2 separate regions of the Homo sapiens genome follow, and region 1 is linked to region 2. A link means that fine-mapping ties the variant in region 2 to the expression of a gene that starts in the linked region. Tissue or cell type: tibial nerve. Region 2 holds a variant in brackets; the other region holds the start of a gene. All regions are shown on one strand. Distances are between the middles of the regions.

Region 1 (8,109 bases), 510 kb before region 2:
AACAGCAACAACAAAAATCCTTGTACCTTTTGTTTATTTTATTCCAGGAAAAAAGTTTTAGTTATAAAGCCTCCTTCTTGGTTTTAATCTTTCATGCACTTCCAGTGACACTGCTGAGGAAATGACAATTTCCAACAAAAATAAACAGTAAATAGCTACTCCCTTTCAGTAAGGGATTATCCAAATTCAGAGAAAGGGATGAATATCCTGAATATGTGAAGAACACTTATAGTTCTACATAGAAACAAAAAACCCACTAAAAAAAGAACCCACTATAAACAGGCCATTCGCACACACAATAAGTATATGAAAGGTGTTTCAGCTCACATCTGCTCATTAGAGCAGAGAAACGCAGATTTTAAAAATACCTCTATTTTACTTGGCTAACATCTGTTAAGTGGATAACCTGAGTCAGGTACTTTTGTCTTATTTAATGCAAACAAAATTCCTGTGAGGTGGGCACTATCATAATGTCCATTTTATAGACAGGGAATCCGAGGCTCAGAGGTTAAAATGCCTGAGGACACAGCTAATAAGTGGTGTTCAGAAAAGTGCTATTTTATCTTTTGCGATTTGCAGATTAAATGATACAGATCAAAATGATAAATGAGCATGCTTTGACCCAGCAATTTCACCTACAAAAGTTTTTATTCATGCTTTGACACAGCAGTTTCACCTACAAAAGTTTATTCCGGGGAAATAAATTGGGTAAGTACATAAAGGGCTTTTATAAGGACATTTAGTGTTGTATTGTTTACAATGGCAAAAAATTGGAAACAATCTAAACGTTCTTCAAAAGGGGATTGGCGAAATAGACATATCAATACAATGTTAACCAGAGCAGCTCTTAAAAATAATGACATAGATCAATATGATTTGGCTTGGAAACTTGTGGCTTGCCTATAGCACAGTATATTGTTCAGAGCGGGAGGCAAGTTATAAAATAGCATGTAAGTTATAATCCCATTTTTGTAAAAGGAATTATCTTTAAGCAGGGGAAAATCTCTGAATGTATATGCTGTGGTTATCCTTGCAGAGGGGCTAGATTATAACAGAGCCAATCAGTTTATATTTCTGTATTATTTGAATATTCTTTTTTGGAATAACTATTTGAAGCAGAAAAAAGGCAATAAATATTGTCGCATGCTGGAATGCACAAAGCAGAACAAATGCACTACGACTGCAAGAACACTCCCAGGGCAACTGAAAGAAGATCAGAGAAGGCACGTACAGGAGAAAGATGTGATAGAAGACTCAACACACAGAGTAGGGTTATGCAGAAGAAAGACAGTGAGAAGCAGAGGAAAGGGAGATGGGAGGGAGAAAGAGTAAAAAGAGCAAAGCAGATGAGCAGGAAAGCAGATGAGCAGGAAAGCAGAGCAAAGGCAGACTGTTGAATCTGTAGAGGAGTTGTAATAAAGGTCAGCAGAGCCCTGGTGGCATCAGGGAATGTGCAACTGGGGCCTTGGTAAGGACAGTTAAGATAGTTAACTGTAGGCAGATAGATGATAGATAGATAGATAGATAGATAGATAGATAGATAGATAGATAGATAACTAAGGACAGTTAAGCTAGATAAGAGCATGGGTGCTAGGGTAAAGCAGTACAGTTAGTGCTCACTAAATAGATATGTCTTCCCCTATGTGTCCTATCCTCCCTTGTAAGTAGATAGGGGTCACAATACTCATTCTTGTCATTGAACTGTGACAGGAAGGGCTGAGGCCCTTAAAGTTTGCAATGCCTCTTTCATTACCCCATGCAGAAGCCATGGGTGTCATATGTTTCATGATGGCCTGACTAGAAGGAGTCACCAATTCCCAGGGGCCAAGATGTGATCATGAAATAAACTCTTTTTGTGTTAAGATACTGTGATTTGGGAGTTTGCCTGTTATGAGAGCTAGAATTTCTTGCTCTGATATGCGTTGTCAGGTACTAGCTGTCTGACTTTGGATAGATTACTTAACTCTCTGAACATCTGTTATTTCACCTGTCAATGGAAATAATAATAGCACCTATCTCACGTGGTTATTGGAGGATTACATGAGAAAGTGTACAGTGTTAGGCACAAAATATTCAATATGTGTTATCATTGTTATTATTATCGTTTACAGCAGGAGTTGATAAATAAATTCCCCAAAATGGGCAGCAACAAGGACAGGGAGTTGTGAAGAGATGACAGCAGGGCTGATCCAAGGAGATATTGTGGAACATATTAACAAAAGTTGTGGAATCTGGACTTGTAACTAAAGAGGACTGAAGATATAGACCCAAATATCTCTGGCTAGTGAATTGCCAACTTCCTATGAGGAAGCATGAAGCTGTCATTTGTGGAGGTTAACTTATAGAGATAAGCTAGTTATGATTAGGTGCATCTCCATAAACATGCTTACTAAATTTTCATCATAATGAAATATGTTAGGTTTATATAATCTCTTTTTCCAACATTTCAGTTGAAGTGAACATAGGTGTTAGATATGCCTAATATTACAGAAATATTGGTTGACCCTTTGCTCTTCCAAGTGATCTTAGGGCAAGGACTCAGGCTGCCTTCTCCCTTGACTACTTAGGGCAGAGGGAGGACTATGTGAGTGGGCCAGCATGTGCCCCTGTGGTGGACTGGTGGTCAAGGGGGGATGTTATATATAAATCCAATAAATACAGCATATGATTAATTCAGGGTAACTTGGTAGTGCTATTCTCCCTTTATTTATTGCTTTTCCTTTTTGAAAAGTAGCATATTTGCAATTAGCAAGTATAACAGATATCTTATTGAGACCTGTGCCATAATTGTATGATTTTTGGAGTGCAGTGATTATTTATAGGCGTAATCAGGGTGGACCATGGCCTCCAACTTCCAAGCTCAAGTGATCCTCCCGCCTCAGCCTCTGGAGTAGCTGAGACTACAGGTGCACCCCACTGCACCCAGCTTGATTTTTAAAATAAAATCAAATTGTTGATTTTTGAGAGAACAAACGGTTTAAGTTACTCCCATTCAGTAGCAGCTGCAAAATTAGGAGGGGGTTTAAGGGTGACCGTCTGGTTGTCAGAGTGTGTTGGAAGCTGAGTTTGAATTTGCACATCACTTTACATGGATTGAGAAGATGTCCTCCACCCCCCCGCCCCGCCCGACCTTTATTTTTGAGACAGAGTCTCGCTGTGTCACCCAGGCTGGAGTGCAGTGGTGAGATCTCTGCTCACTGCAACCTCTGCCTCCCGGGTTCAAGTGATTCTCGTGCCTCAGCCTTCAGAGTACCTGGGATTAAAGGCATGTGCCACCACACGTGGCTAATTTTTGTATTTTTAGTGGAAATGGGGTTTCACCATGTTGGCCAGGCTGGTCTCGAACTCCTGACGTCGTGATCTGCCTGCCTTGGCCTCCCAAAGTGCTGGGATTACAGGCGTGAGCCACCGCACAGGCCCTACTTTCTAAATAAAAAGGGAGGGGTCTTTTTTTGGGAGGAGGTTAAGGCCCGCAGCTCCCCTTGATATGGCCGCTGCTCTCAGGCACTTAATCCATTATTTCAACAAATGTTTAAAGAGCACCTACTATGTGCTTCAATTATACAAAGATGATACAACCTCTGTCCCTAGAATGACCACAGCCCAACAGAGAGACTGAGGGCGAAATGTGCAAACCCTGGGTCCTCCAAATACTTAAGATTCAGAGCCAGGTTGTCAGAGGTTCTCCTTTGTTCTGGCTGAATAGTAACACTGACAGGGACCTGCCAGTTTCAAGTTATTCCAGTTATTCGGAAAAGTGAATTGTTCCAAGTGGCGTCAGTGCACGTTAGAACGTGGGCCCGCGTCATGGTGTTCGTGAAGACTGGAAACAAGTGGGACCCCCGCCAGCACAGCTCATGCAACTGCTTCCCCTCCAACAGTTTCGCCCATCCCGACTCAATTGAGGGACCCGAGACGTTTCTTCTCTGGGCCAATCAGAACCCAGTCAGCATCTCTCTGATGCAACTGTTCCCTTATAAAACGATTAAACGTGGACCAGCTATTTTTATTCGGTCCTATAAAAATAGCTGCCGTCAGTCAGTCCTGGCGGGGAATCAAGGCCTCTGCTCTTCAAGTGCGCGCCCCAGTCGGCCGTGTCCTGATGTTACTTTCCCAGCCATTGGCATCTGGGGGCGCAGCTGGACCCACAGCTCCCAGACCGCGTTGTGTTCCACTGACAGAGTCTCCTAGGGAAAGGGAAAGGTGCATTTGCTCTCAGGCTCCGCCTAGGACACACACACCAAGATCTTCCCGGGCTGCTGGTAAAAGCCAGGATGCAACAGCCTGAGGGTCCCAGAGCGAGGAAGAAGGATCAATCAGGTCCCCCGGACGCACTTAGTTCAGCAGGAGTGGCGGGCTGTGGGGGTGGGAGGTAGCCCCAGGGCCTTTGATGTGGGCACACGCTCCCCCAGCCCGCCGAATCGGTTCCTCCCCTAACAAGGGATGTGGACACGGTTCATCTGCCTTCCGGTGTGCCTGAGCAAGAACTGTGCAACCTATCTCCACCCCCTCCGTCCCCGGTATGAGCACTTTTGATTCCTCCCCAGACAAAGCCAATCTGAACTCCAGCAGAATGAATAAAGGGATCAGGTTGCTCTCCCGGCCTCCCCTCACCTCCCTCCTCGCTTCTCCCTTTCCCCACGTGACTCTCTGGAATTTCGCCAAAGCTCCGAGTCTCTGGGTCCATTTTCACACCGAGCAAAGCAGAGAGGAAGGAGGCAAGGGAGACTAGAGGAAGGCTGAACGTGTGTCCTTTAAACACGGGGTCCAGACCCGGCGTATTTTGGGCGTTTCCAGGCTCTCTCGCCAGAGTGGCCTTGAGTTTGGGGGTCTTTTCCAGCCTCGCTAGCTTTTTCCTCCGTGCAATTAAAATTATGGCTCTTCTTCCACTCCCGTAATCATTGCACCTCTACCCTGCAGACCTCCTCCGGGGTGTTCAGCGCGGAGGTGGGTGTTGGTGTGCAGCAAGCCGCGTCCCCGCAGCCCTCCTCACCCAGGCGAGGGGCGGGGACGAGAAAGTAGCAGCAGCGCCCCCCAGTCTTTCCTCTGAAGCTTCCGAACAGTCTGCTTCAGGGAGCGCAGCCTGAGGCGGTGTGGTGCGGTGCGGCTGCAGGGCGGGCGAGTCCCCGGAGCTGCCCTCAGCGCTGCACAGTTTCCAGCGAGCGGACCCCGGCAGATGAGGTCTGCCGAGCCGGGTGGCTCGACCAAGGAGTGGGTGTGGGTGGGTCTTTCGGGGCTCCCGGCGACCCGCGGTGCCGACGCAACGCCGACGTATGGTGCCAAGCGAACTTTAAAAAGCTGCTTCGGACAAACCAGAGCCAGGATTTCCACTGTCGGGGACCCGGGATCGGAAGGGTCTAGCCCGAGGGAAATGCTGGAAGATCCCATCGGCCAGTGACCAGCAACTTTCCGGCGAGATTTTGACGCGGAGAACTGTGCTCTGCCTCCTCTTATTCTCCCAAAGCTCACGTTGGCGTCCTGCCTTGCGGGGGAACTCGGCGCGCTCTCTGCCTGAGCAGCGAGTGAATTGAACCCCAGCCCGCTCCGGCGCCTCCGGGCTGATGAGTGTCGCTCTCCGCCCGTCCATCTCTTTTTCCCGGAGGTAAAGGCCCGCGGTCCCCCACCTTCAGTGCGCCCGGGTTCCAAGCGCCGGAGCCAGCGTTTTGGCGGAGCCGCTTCTTGGATGCTGAAGGCTGGGCTCCTCCATCGTGGGTGCCGAGGCGGCGATGGGTGTCCTCAAAGTGTGGCTCGGGCTGGCCCTAGCGTTGGCGGAATTTGCAGTATTGCCTCATCATTCCGAAGGTGAGAGAGCGGTGCCGCGTGTGTGTGTGTGTGTGCGTGTGCGTGTGTGTGTGTATGTGTGAGTGATCGTGCAGTTTAAAAATCTCAGCAGGTTTTATGGTATTTCGGTGAGGTGGAAGTTTTTCTGGGAAGGGTGAGGTGGAAGTGAAACTGGAATAGGCTTTTTCTGATAAGATTCCTACTCCTGATTGTTTTGTATTCGGATTACACCCCCGAAACGGCCTCCCTCTCTGCCCTAAGTGCTTTTGGGTGGGTGGGTGGCCGATGGAGGTGACATCTCTGAAACTGATCCTTTTTCTTTCCACCACCTACCTTTCCCCGAAGGGAAAGCAACTGCATGGAGCACAGGTGAGGAGCGAACAATTGCTCTTACCTGTTTAAAAATACTTCTGTTCCTAAGAAACATACAGTCTTTCATCTTAAAGCCCCATCGCTCTCCCGCCCTCCTTACCTCAGTTAGTCTCCCCCTAAAGTCCAGTTAGGATTTTATAACTAACTGGTTGGAGCGTGTTCTGGTCGTGGGCAGTTCAGTTGCACTGAAAGAAATCTCTCCAGTACGGAGAAGCACGAACCAGCCTGCTTCCCAGAACAAAAGTGGTTAATAAGAGTTTAGGTTCATTCTTTTACTTCACCCTCCGCCTCCTGGTTTTCCTCCGAGGCTCCAAGCTACCTGTAAAACCCCGGAGCCGCAGGAGAGAAAAGGAAGCCGTGAGACTAGTTGTCGCCATGATATCAAATGCAATCCGGGCTCAGCCAAATAAATGAGTCAATAAGTAAATCAAGAGTTTGGGGTCATGGGATGCCGGGCCTGGGGACGCGAGGCGCTGTGAGCTCCCTCCTGCTCCGAGGAGCCAGGGAAGTCGCCCCGCCAGTGCTTAGGGAGGGGGAAGGGAGCCGGCGGGCTGGGAGGAAGACGGCTTAATCCACAGCGCCTGGCTCTCGGCTTCCCCTCCCGGCTCCATTCATTATTCATCCAGCTGCGGGAAGAAGAGTTCACCTGCCCAGCCGCAAACCAGAGCCGCGGCTGGGCGGCGGCGGCGGGCGCAGGGCGGGCCGCCTTCTCCGCCCTGGTGCCTAGGAAGGGGCGCGGGGCGGCTCCCGGGAGTCGAGCTCTGGCGCAGGACTGGGGGCTGCGGGAGGCCCGGGGAGGACAAAGCTCTGCCTCGGGTCGACCTCCAGTCACTGGAGCAGCTGCCTTTTCTTTGCTGGCTTCCCAAGAGAAAGGCCTTGGGAATCCACGCACAAGGGTGGGGGACTTTCCCGTGGGTCCAGGTGCTGCCTTCTGCACTCTTCCGGGATGTGTGTCAAGTGTGTATAATCTCCGCGAAAGGCACATCTGGGGCCTGTGCAGCCTTCTCCCAACAGTGCAAGTCCTGTAGAAATATAACTTTATTGTTTATGTGCGTGTGGGCGCGTACTTTGGAAAAAAAAAAAAAAAGCTTGTAGGGCTTGATTATAACAATAAACCAGATGAGAGAGTCACCCCAGGCCACCCAAACCTGAACTTGGTACTTAGAAAAATTAATTTCACTTGGTGGCAGTTTTTAAAATTTAGAGTCCTATCCCAGCAACGCAGGAAACGTGCTATCACTCCCGGATAGCTCACCAGGGGGCAGTTGGAATGGTGCAGCTTGTCGGAACCAAAACTCTGAAATCAACAAAAGGCATTATTATTAAGAGCCTGCAGGGTGCGCTCTTTGGCAGATTGCTTGATCCAGTGGGCCAAGTTTAAGAAGTGCGGAATCTAGACTGGGAGGTGGGGATGGGGGGATGTGAAGCACAGAAAGCTGGGGGTAGAGACGGGGGGCGGGGGCGGGGGCGGAGAGAGGGTGTGGATATTACTCCAAAGAGTCTTTGGAAACTTTGCTTCTTATTGTTTGACTTTACTGTCAGAGCATTCTATAGCTGTTTCACAAATTGGATTGATAAATTGATAGATGTCTGAGTTTCCACCCACGTCATAATGGTGCTTATCTAATAATGAATGAATGAATGAATGAACATGGCCATTTATTGAGCAGGTATTGTTTGCCTGGCTCTTTGCTAAGCACTTTACATACTTTATCTCATTTAATTAGTTTAATTAAGTGATATCACTCCCACAGACAAAAAAACATTTGTCATCTGATGAGACCTCTGGTTTGGTCCTCTCAAGGTTTTCTTTTTCTTTAAAAAATAAGAGCATTGAGATCAAGGTTGGAAACCTCAAGGATCTTAGAAATCTCCTCAAGTTTTTATTATCAGCCTAGAGAATAATTTTTAAAAATAGAAAAGAGACATTCACATGTATACTTCTTTTGATGGGAT
Region 2 (8,109 bases):
CTGACACCGGCATTTGAGAATTATTGAAAGAAACAGGATGCAGAACAAGAAAGCATTTTTAATTCATTTATTCACTCAACTAATATTTACTAACTATCTTTTATATGCCAGATATTGGCTCTGGCAACACAGCAGAGAAAGAGAAATAAAAAGGATGGCACCTACATTTTATTAGGGAAGACAGACAATAAATGAAGAAATAAATGTACAGTATAAAAAGACAGTTTTAAGTGCTCTGGGGAAAAGTAAAGGTGGATAATAAATATGATGGGGGGTGTGATTTTCTGCTCAGATATAGGAGGAGAAGTCAACGTGGCATGAGATGGTGAGCTGAGGGAATATCTCGGGAAAGAGCAGCCAGGCAGACGGAATGATAAGTGTAAGCCCTGAGGCAGATGGGCAAGACACATTTGAATGCAACAGGAAGATTCCCACGAAGCAAAAACAGGGATACAAGATTACAAGGGGATTGGGGGAGGTATTACAATTCTCTTTTATGGTACTTTATTATCCTCCAAGGGCCACAGAGAGTCCCAAGAAGTCTTCACATGGACTGTTCAAGGAGTTTCCATTCTCTAGGTTTACTTTACATTAGGAAGCATTCTTAAATTTGCTGCAACTTCTTGTTGGGATTATCGCTTTTTAAAAAAACTCATAAATAACCCATAAAATAATGCATTTACCATCATGTCCAGTAGACATCATTTACCTTGGCCATTTATGTAAGAAGTATTCTGCCCAGAATATTACAAACAGGAGACATCCCTGATCCCAGTCCCTCACAGGTTTCTCATCCTCATAGGAGTGAGGTGGATAGAGTAAGTGTCCCCAAATCCTGCAAAGCCAGTGCTGTGGTCTAAATGTCTGTGTCGTTCCCCCTCCCCCACCAACCTGCCCCTTATTCATAGGTTGAAATCCTGACCTTCAGGATGATTGGGCGATGGGATCTCTGGGGGGTGATTAGGTTAGGTGGGGATTATTGCCCTTTTAAAAGAGGTCTGAGGGAGCTTGGTCACGTCTTCTGCCATGTGAGAACACAGCCAGAAGGTGCCGTATATGAACCATAAAGTGGACCTTCACTAGACACTGAATCTGCTGGCACCTTGATCTTGGAATTTTAGCCTCCAGAATTGTGAGAAATAAATTTTTATTATTTATAAGACACCCAGTTTGTGGTATTTTGTTATATCAGCCTGGAATGCTAAGACAGACAGCCACCGTTCTCTAGCCAAGGGCCATTTAAGAAGATGTGGATTCTGCACTTCAGTGAGCCAAATTCCCTATATTTCTCCATATATCCAGGAAGATATAAATTCTCTATATATTCCTGTTAGATTGCAGGACCCTTAGACAGGGACGTCTCCCGCAGAAGTTACACATGCACAGGGCTGAGTATGTGGCCAGAATAGCCATGTTAGTCTTCAAATCTTTGTGACCCTTGGCCAAGAGAATTTGGTCAAGAACTCTTAACTAGGTTAAGCACTTTACTTTGATTGTAGAACAAAGAGATAATCTACAAATACTGGTGCTAGATGACTCAAAAGAAGATTAATACAAATTATTTATAATCTGCTTTAAACAAATACATGAAAATTATTCTGAGAAAGATGTTCATGTTAATAAAGTCTCTGGGGAGGCCAAGTGTTTCAAACTCAATCCAGATAGTTGGGTTTGCTACCTTTGTCAGAGAAACCCTGAGCGCTTGGAGAGACAGGAAGGAAGATGTAACAGAATCACCAGACACAGTCATGCATTTCATGTCTCCAGTGTACTAGAAAACACTCAGCTTCTGAAGTATCTCCCAAATCTCCCAGAATACAATAGGAACTTTGATTTCTAGACTATTGATACTTGAAGGAAGCAACTCATCGGGCAGCCAACCATCTAGTGTAGAGCTTGGAGAAAGTCCACACTGTGAGATGTCATTGTCTTGCTTTCATATTCTTACTTAGCAAACTAATTCACAGTTATGTATTAAGCCCCTATCTGGGGACTGAGCACTGGGCTCCCAGCTGGATAAATAGGAATGAGTGAAACAAATGTCTCTGCCTTCTGGAATTTTATTTTAGAGGGGGTGGAGAGACAGATATAAACAGCGAGAGGTATTACTCAATGCTGAGTGCCCTAACAATGGAGAGGTGGCTGAGATGCAGAATAACAGTAGAAGACCTACTCAGATCAAGTGCCAAAGAAGATCTGTTAGAGAAGATGGTCTTTAAGGAGAGGACTGAAGGTAAAAATCATTCCAGTTAGAGAGAACAACACAAACCAAGGCATTAAGGTGGGAAAGAGTTCATTGTATACCAGCTTGACTTTCAAAGAACTGAAGTGTGGGAACTCTACCTCTCATCTGGAGAGAGTGGCTCCAGATAAGAGTCATGAAGGTGGTTGGGCCAAACCATGCAGGGCCCTATGGACCAGTGTAAGGAGTTTGGACTCTATTCAGTGTGAAATAGGGGAGTGACAAGATCTGACTTAGATTTTTTTTTTTTTTTTTTTTGAGATGGAGTCTCGCTCTGTTGCACAGACCAGAGTGCAGTAGCACGATCTCAGCTCACTACAACCTCTGCCTCCTGGGTTCAAGTGATTCTCCTGCCCCAGCCTCCTGAGTAGCTGGGATTACAGGCACCTGCCACCACGCCTGGTTAAATTTTGTATTTTTAGTAGAGGCAGAGTTTCATCATATTGGCCAGGCTGGTCTCGAACTCCTGACCTCAGGTGATCCATCCCAAAGCACAGAGATTACAGGTGTGAGTCACCCCACCTGGCCCGACTTAGATCTTTAACAGATCCCTTGGCTGCTATGTGGGAAATGGCTGGAGATGGGAAGTAGGAAGTAGAGAGGAACATGACTCAGATGTTCAAGTACGGGAGAGCGATGATTGTGAGTTGGACAAGAGCAGGAGCAAAGAACCTGGGGAGGAGCGCCCATGCGATTATCTTCTTAAAATAATCTCAGCAGGCCTTGCTGATAGATGGAATTCAGAGGGAAATGCAGGTGAAGGAATCAAAGGGGACTCCCAGGTTTCTGGTGGCTGATGATTGCTCCTTTTACAGGGATGGGGAAGGTTGAGGAAACTGAGCAAATTGGCGATGAGCACAGAAACTGGAGCCAGATTGCCTAGGTTCAAATCCTGGCTGTGCCACAAACTACCTATGTGACCTTGGCGAGTGTCTTAACCGCTCTGGACCCTCTTTTTTCTCCTCTATAAAATCACGGTATTAATTGTACCTACCTCATAGGGTGGTTTTGAGGATTAAATGATCAGGTATATGTAAAATACAAGTAAGTACTATGTAAGTGTCAGAAGGGGGAAGAAATAGCTTGGGAGGAAACAATGAGTTGATATAGGAGATAATCAAAACAAATACATGGAGGAGACATTGAATATACAAGACCAGTGCTCAGAACTGAAGTCTGGGCTAGAGCTATAATGTGGGATTTTTCTGTATACAGAAGAGGGAGTGGAAGAAATAACCCACAGCAGGATTAGAGGGAAAGAAAAGAGAGAGCCACTTTCCACTTTAGAATTGCGTATT[T/G]TATAGAGGTCAGACAAAGGTGAGTGCATCCTGGAGAGGCGGGAAGAAACCTAGGAGGTGAGGCACAGGAGCCAATGGAAGGCAGGCTAGCTGTGAGTGACACATGCTCCAAGGGGTCAAGGCTTCTTATTATAACTCATGTGTCATGGAAAATACAACATCAATGGCTTGTTTGTCCCTGTCTTCCCTGATTTCTGAATCTCATTCATCTTTCTACTCCATCCCACACCCTCCTCTGTTCTCACATTCCAGTCCTCTTGCTCTGACACTGCCCTGATGATGAAATCACTCTATTTAAAAAAGAAAAGCTGAACTATTCACAGTAGCAAAAATATGGAATAAAACTAAGGTTTATCAACAGAGGATTGAATTAAGAAAATGAATGTAGAATACTATACTATACTATACTATAGAATACTACTCAGCCACTCAGCCACAAAAAAAAAAAAAATGAAATCATGTCTTTTGCAGGAACATGAATGGAACTGGAGGCCATTATCCTGAGTGAAATAACTCAGAAGCAGAAAGTCAAATACCACTTATAAGTGGGAGCTAAACAATGGGTACACATTGATATAGAGAACGGAATAATAGAGATTGAACACTTCAAAAGGTGGGAGGGTGGGAGGGGCTAAGGGCTGAAAATTACCTATTGAGCACAGGGCTCACTAGTCGGGTGACGGGTACACTAATAAAAGCCAAGACTTCACCACCATGCACCATCTGCATGTAAGAAATCTGCACTTGTACCCCCTAAATATTTTTAAGAAATTTAAAAAAGAAAAGCTGAAAAGTATGAATATTTTTTCTTTGAGTGAGCCCAAGAACAAATATAAACTTTTTCTTCAGAACTTTGGACACATTATGAACAAAGCCATGTTGTCAGCCTGGCATATCTCAGGGATCCCAGCGTCTGCCAGTCTTGCCTGCTGTGGACGTTCAGCACCGCCTACTCCTTACTGCCCTGTGGGCTGCAGAGCATGCCTGCGGTGGTGGTGGGAGGCTTCTGTTTGTGCATCATCTTCCATAGGCACAGTGATCATTGCCAGCCAGTGGCACTTCTAGGTGAGGAGGCTCTTAGGCGAGGCCCCCAGGATTTGCCCTGTAGGAACCGCTTGGTTACCAGTATTTTTCTCTGGCCTTTACCTGCTGTATTAGTTTCCTAGGGCTGCTGTAATAAAGTACCACAAGCTGCTGGTTTCGAATGACATGAATATATTATCTCACAGTTCTGGAGGCCAGAAGTCTAAAATCAAGGTGTGGTCAGGGCCGTCCTCCCTCTGAAAGCTGTAGGGGAGAACTTCTTAGCCTCTTCCTGGTTTCTAGTGGTTTACTGGTATAGGGGAGTAACAGTAATCCCCATAGGTTCTTAGTTGGAAAGCACCTTTGTTACAAAAGACAGATTGACAAGAGAAAACCAGACAGAAGTTTATTAACATGTGTATTTTGAGTATACATGGAGACACCAAGAGAATGAGTAGTTTTCAGAGGTGGCTTTGAATTTCAGCTTATATAGCATCTTCAACAAAGAACAGTAAATTTTTTGTAACAAGACAATAGAAAAGGACCTTTGAATCTCTGTGGGCAGCAACTTGCAGGTGGGGCAGTGAAGAAAGGCAAATAACTTGCAGATAAAGGTTAGTTAGTACAGCTTGCTAATATAAATTCTTCTAATACCATTGTCAGGCTGATAAGGGTCTTAAACTATCTTCAGTCTTTAACCTTTGTTCTCCCTGGTAGTCAGGAGGGCAGAATACCTTTTGTCTTCATAAATCTTTGTCCTGCTTTTAGGCAAATGGAGGAAAGATATCTCTTGAGTATCTGTTTCTTCTTGTCTTCAACAATCCTTCATGTTTTGAAGAGGCACATTCTGGTCTCATACTGGCAGCTCGCAGCTGCGTAACTCCAGTCTCTGCCTTCACCATCACATCACATTCTTTCTGTATGTCTCTGCCTTTACATGGCTGTCTTATAAGGATACCAGTGGTATTGGATTGGGGGCCTGCCACTGTGACCTCATCTTAATTAATTACATCTGCAATAACCTGGTCTCCAAGTAAGGCCACATTCTGTGGTACTGTGGGTTAGGACTTTAAGGTATTTTTTTGGGGAGACACAATTCAACCCATAACACCTGCCTCACTTGACTGCATTTTATTTCAGGGCTGTTTACAGTAAACTTTCTTTGGTTTTGAAAAATGCTTTTTACTGGAAAAATTGAACAGGAAGTCTTAACAATTTCCAAGTTTGATTGCTTTATTTTTTATAATCTACTCCATTTTTCCTTGTATCATAAAGCTTCATGACCCAACATAGCATCTTGACATTGAACAGAGAGCCATCGTTTCTCCCCGGCTCTTTGAGAGCTCCTTGTCCTGGAGTTTTATCTGGAGCTTTGATTTGATGCCTCAATTTTTGGATGTGGCCTTTATAGGGCTTTCTGAAGTGATGAGTGATCTGGCTTCACCGCATCTTCAAAATGTCCCTGCAGCAACTGCTATTCTTGCTCTGTAGCATTTGGCTTTAAATATGTTTCATATCAACAGGGTTGGCACCTTCTGTTTTTCTCTTCCACTCATCCTTCTGAATGTAAATGTTTAACTTCTTGCAAACACAGTACACTTTGCATAAAGAAATAGGTACAACTGGCTTTTGTGAGTCAAAAACAGACTGGCCTCTCCCAGGGGCAATAGCAAACAGCTCCCTAGGCCCAGCTTGGCCAAGCAGTGGCTTCAAGGTGTCATGTGCTAAGGCTGACCTCCGAAGGATGATTTTAGAAGATCAAGGGAGATTATATTGTCTTGAAAAAGATGGTTTAAATGAGATGAAGGCTAGTCTAGTTTAGGAGCAAAGACTGTTGGAACAGACCACTTACTGGCTGTGGGAACTTAGACAAGTTACTTAATCATCAGTTTCATCATCTGTGAAAAGGATTTATTATATCTACCTTATAAGTTTATTGCAAGGATTGAATAAGCAAATGCAGGAAACGCGCTTAGCACAGTACTTGGCACATAGTGATTAGCAGCAATTGTTCTTAGTATAAAGAGCTCCTGTTACTTTCCCCCTTTATCTAGACATTCTTTGCTTTAATTTGTTTTCCAACTGGCTTCAGCAGCATTTTTCTTTTGGAGGCATCTGAAGGTCAAGTTTCAGAAAAGGAAAGCAACTAAATGTGTTTAAATGTGTGGATGGAAATCTGATCAAAGGCAATTTTTTTTTTTTTAAATAGACTTTGCCAAGTATTCAGGTGATGTTCTACGCTAGCACTGACTATGTTAGGACACTAGGGTTACTGGAAATAAACTCAGCCAAGTATTGATTAGTAATATAAATGTCAAGGAATTAAGCTTGCAGTGGAGCAGGCAATGCAAGCAGTCCTGTTTGGCTGTAAAAATGCCGACATTCCTGAAGCGATGAGCTCATCATTAAATTCTTCATCTTCCACACCCATAAGAGAATTCATGGCTTGTTTGCTCATTTTTGCTTTGGTTTTCTAGACAGCTAAGAAGGAAATAAAGCAGTGCTTCTTAAACTTTATTGTGTACTAGAATCACCTGGAAGGTTTGTTAAATCGCAGATTCTGCATCCTGGCCCTGCAGTTGTTGGTTCAGGAACACTGGGGTTGGGCCTGAGAATTTGCATTTCTGTCACATTCCCGGGTGATGCTGATGCAGCTGCTTCAGGAACCACACTTTGAGAACCACTAAGATGAACTCCCTCGAGGCATTGTGATGTGACATAGAGCAGGGGGCATTTTAGTCATAAGGTGATGGGTTTGAGTCCTGGGGCTGTCCTTATTAGCAGAGCTCTTTTAAGCAAATAATCTCTGTGAGACTGGGTTTCTTCCATTTTCAATTAGAAATAATAAAATTCACCTCATGAAGGCTCTTGTAAGAGTTAAATGTTTGTAAATCACTTTGTTCATGTATTAGTTTTAAAAGATTTCATTAATCTTTGATTGTAAGATTATTTTGTAAGTCATGTAATATTTCCGAATGATTTGGGCAACCAAGTCTATCAAATGAATAATGCCATTCGTTTAAATAATGGAAGCAGTTTTAAATATTTCACTAAAATTCCACTTCAGAATTCCCAAGCCCTTTTTCAAGTTGGGGTGTGTGTGTGCGTACTTTCTTCCCCCCTTGTAATTAAACAAGTTATTCCTCCCCCATTTAATTCTTGCTAAGTACTAAATTGCATAATAAATTGGGAATTTCCTCCTTCTCTAATTCTGTGCATTGGCATTTTAGCATATTTTGATGTGTAGGTGGTAAAGGCCAGTGAAAAGTTCACAGCTGGAGTGCAAACCCTGAGTTTTCATGATGCATGAACAACTGGGATCTGACCACAATTTTGTCTTTTTATATTTAGAATCAGCCACGTCAATATCTGCATGGCACAGAATCACCTGGGAGCTTCTTACACATGTAGAATTTAGCACCCCATCTCTAAAACATATGATTCAGTATATAGAAGGTGTGTCCTGGTCATATACATTTAAAGTATCACTCCAGGTGGTACAGAGACTGCACTTCATGAAACACCAGGAATGGTCTGGAATAGTCT

The links. PIP is the estimated chance that this variant, and not a neighbour inherited with it, causes the effect.
Region 1: FRAS1 starts here. The variant in region 2 is fine-mapped to the expression of FRAS1 in tibial nerve (GTEx, PIP above 0.99).

Annotation. Positions count from the first base shown.
Region 1 is chr4:78,052,284-78,060,392 of GRCh38, forward strand. It overlaps FRAS1 (Fraser extracellular matrix complex subunit 1), which reads left to right and starts at 5,040. Exons shown (of 74, transcript NM_025074.7): 1 at 5,040-5,802. The coding sequence starts at 5,727. RefSeq lists an enhancer at 3,626-4,597.
Region 2 is chr4:78,562,512-78,570,620 of GRCh38, forward strand. All of the region lies in intron 2 of ANXA3 (annexin A3), which reads left to right. Among named protein-coding and RNA genes, the nearest start is that of ANXA3, 15 kb to the left of the region's middle. The variant T/G (reference allele first, on the strand shown) is at 3,541.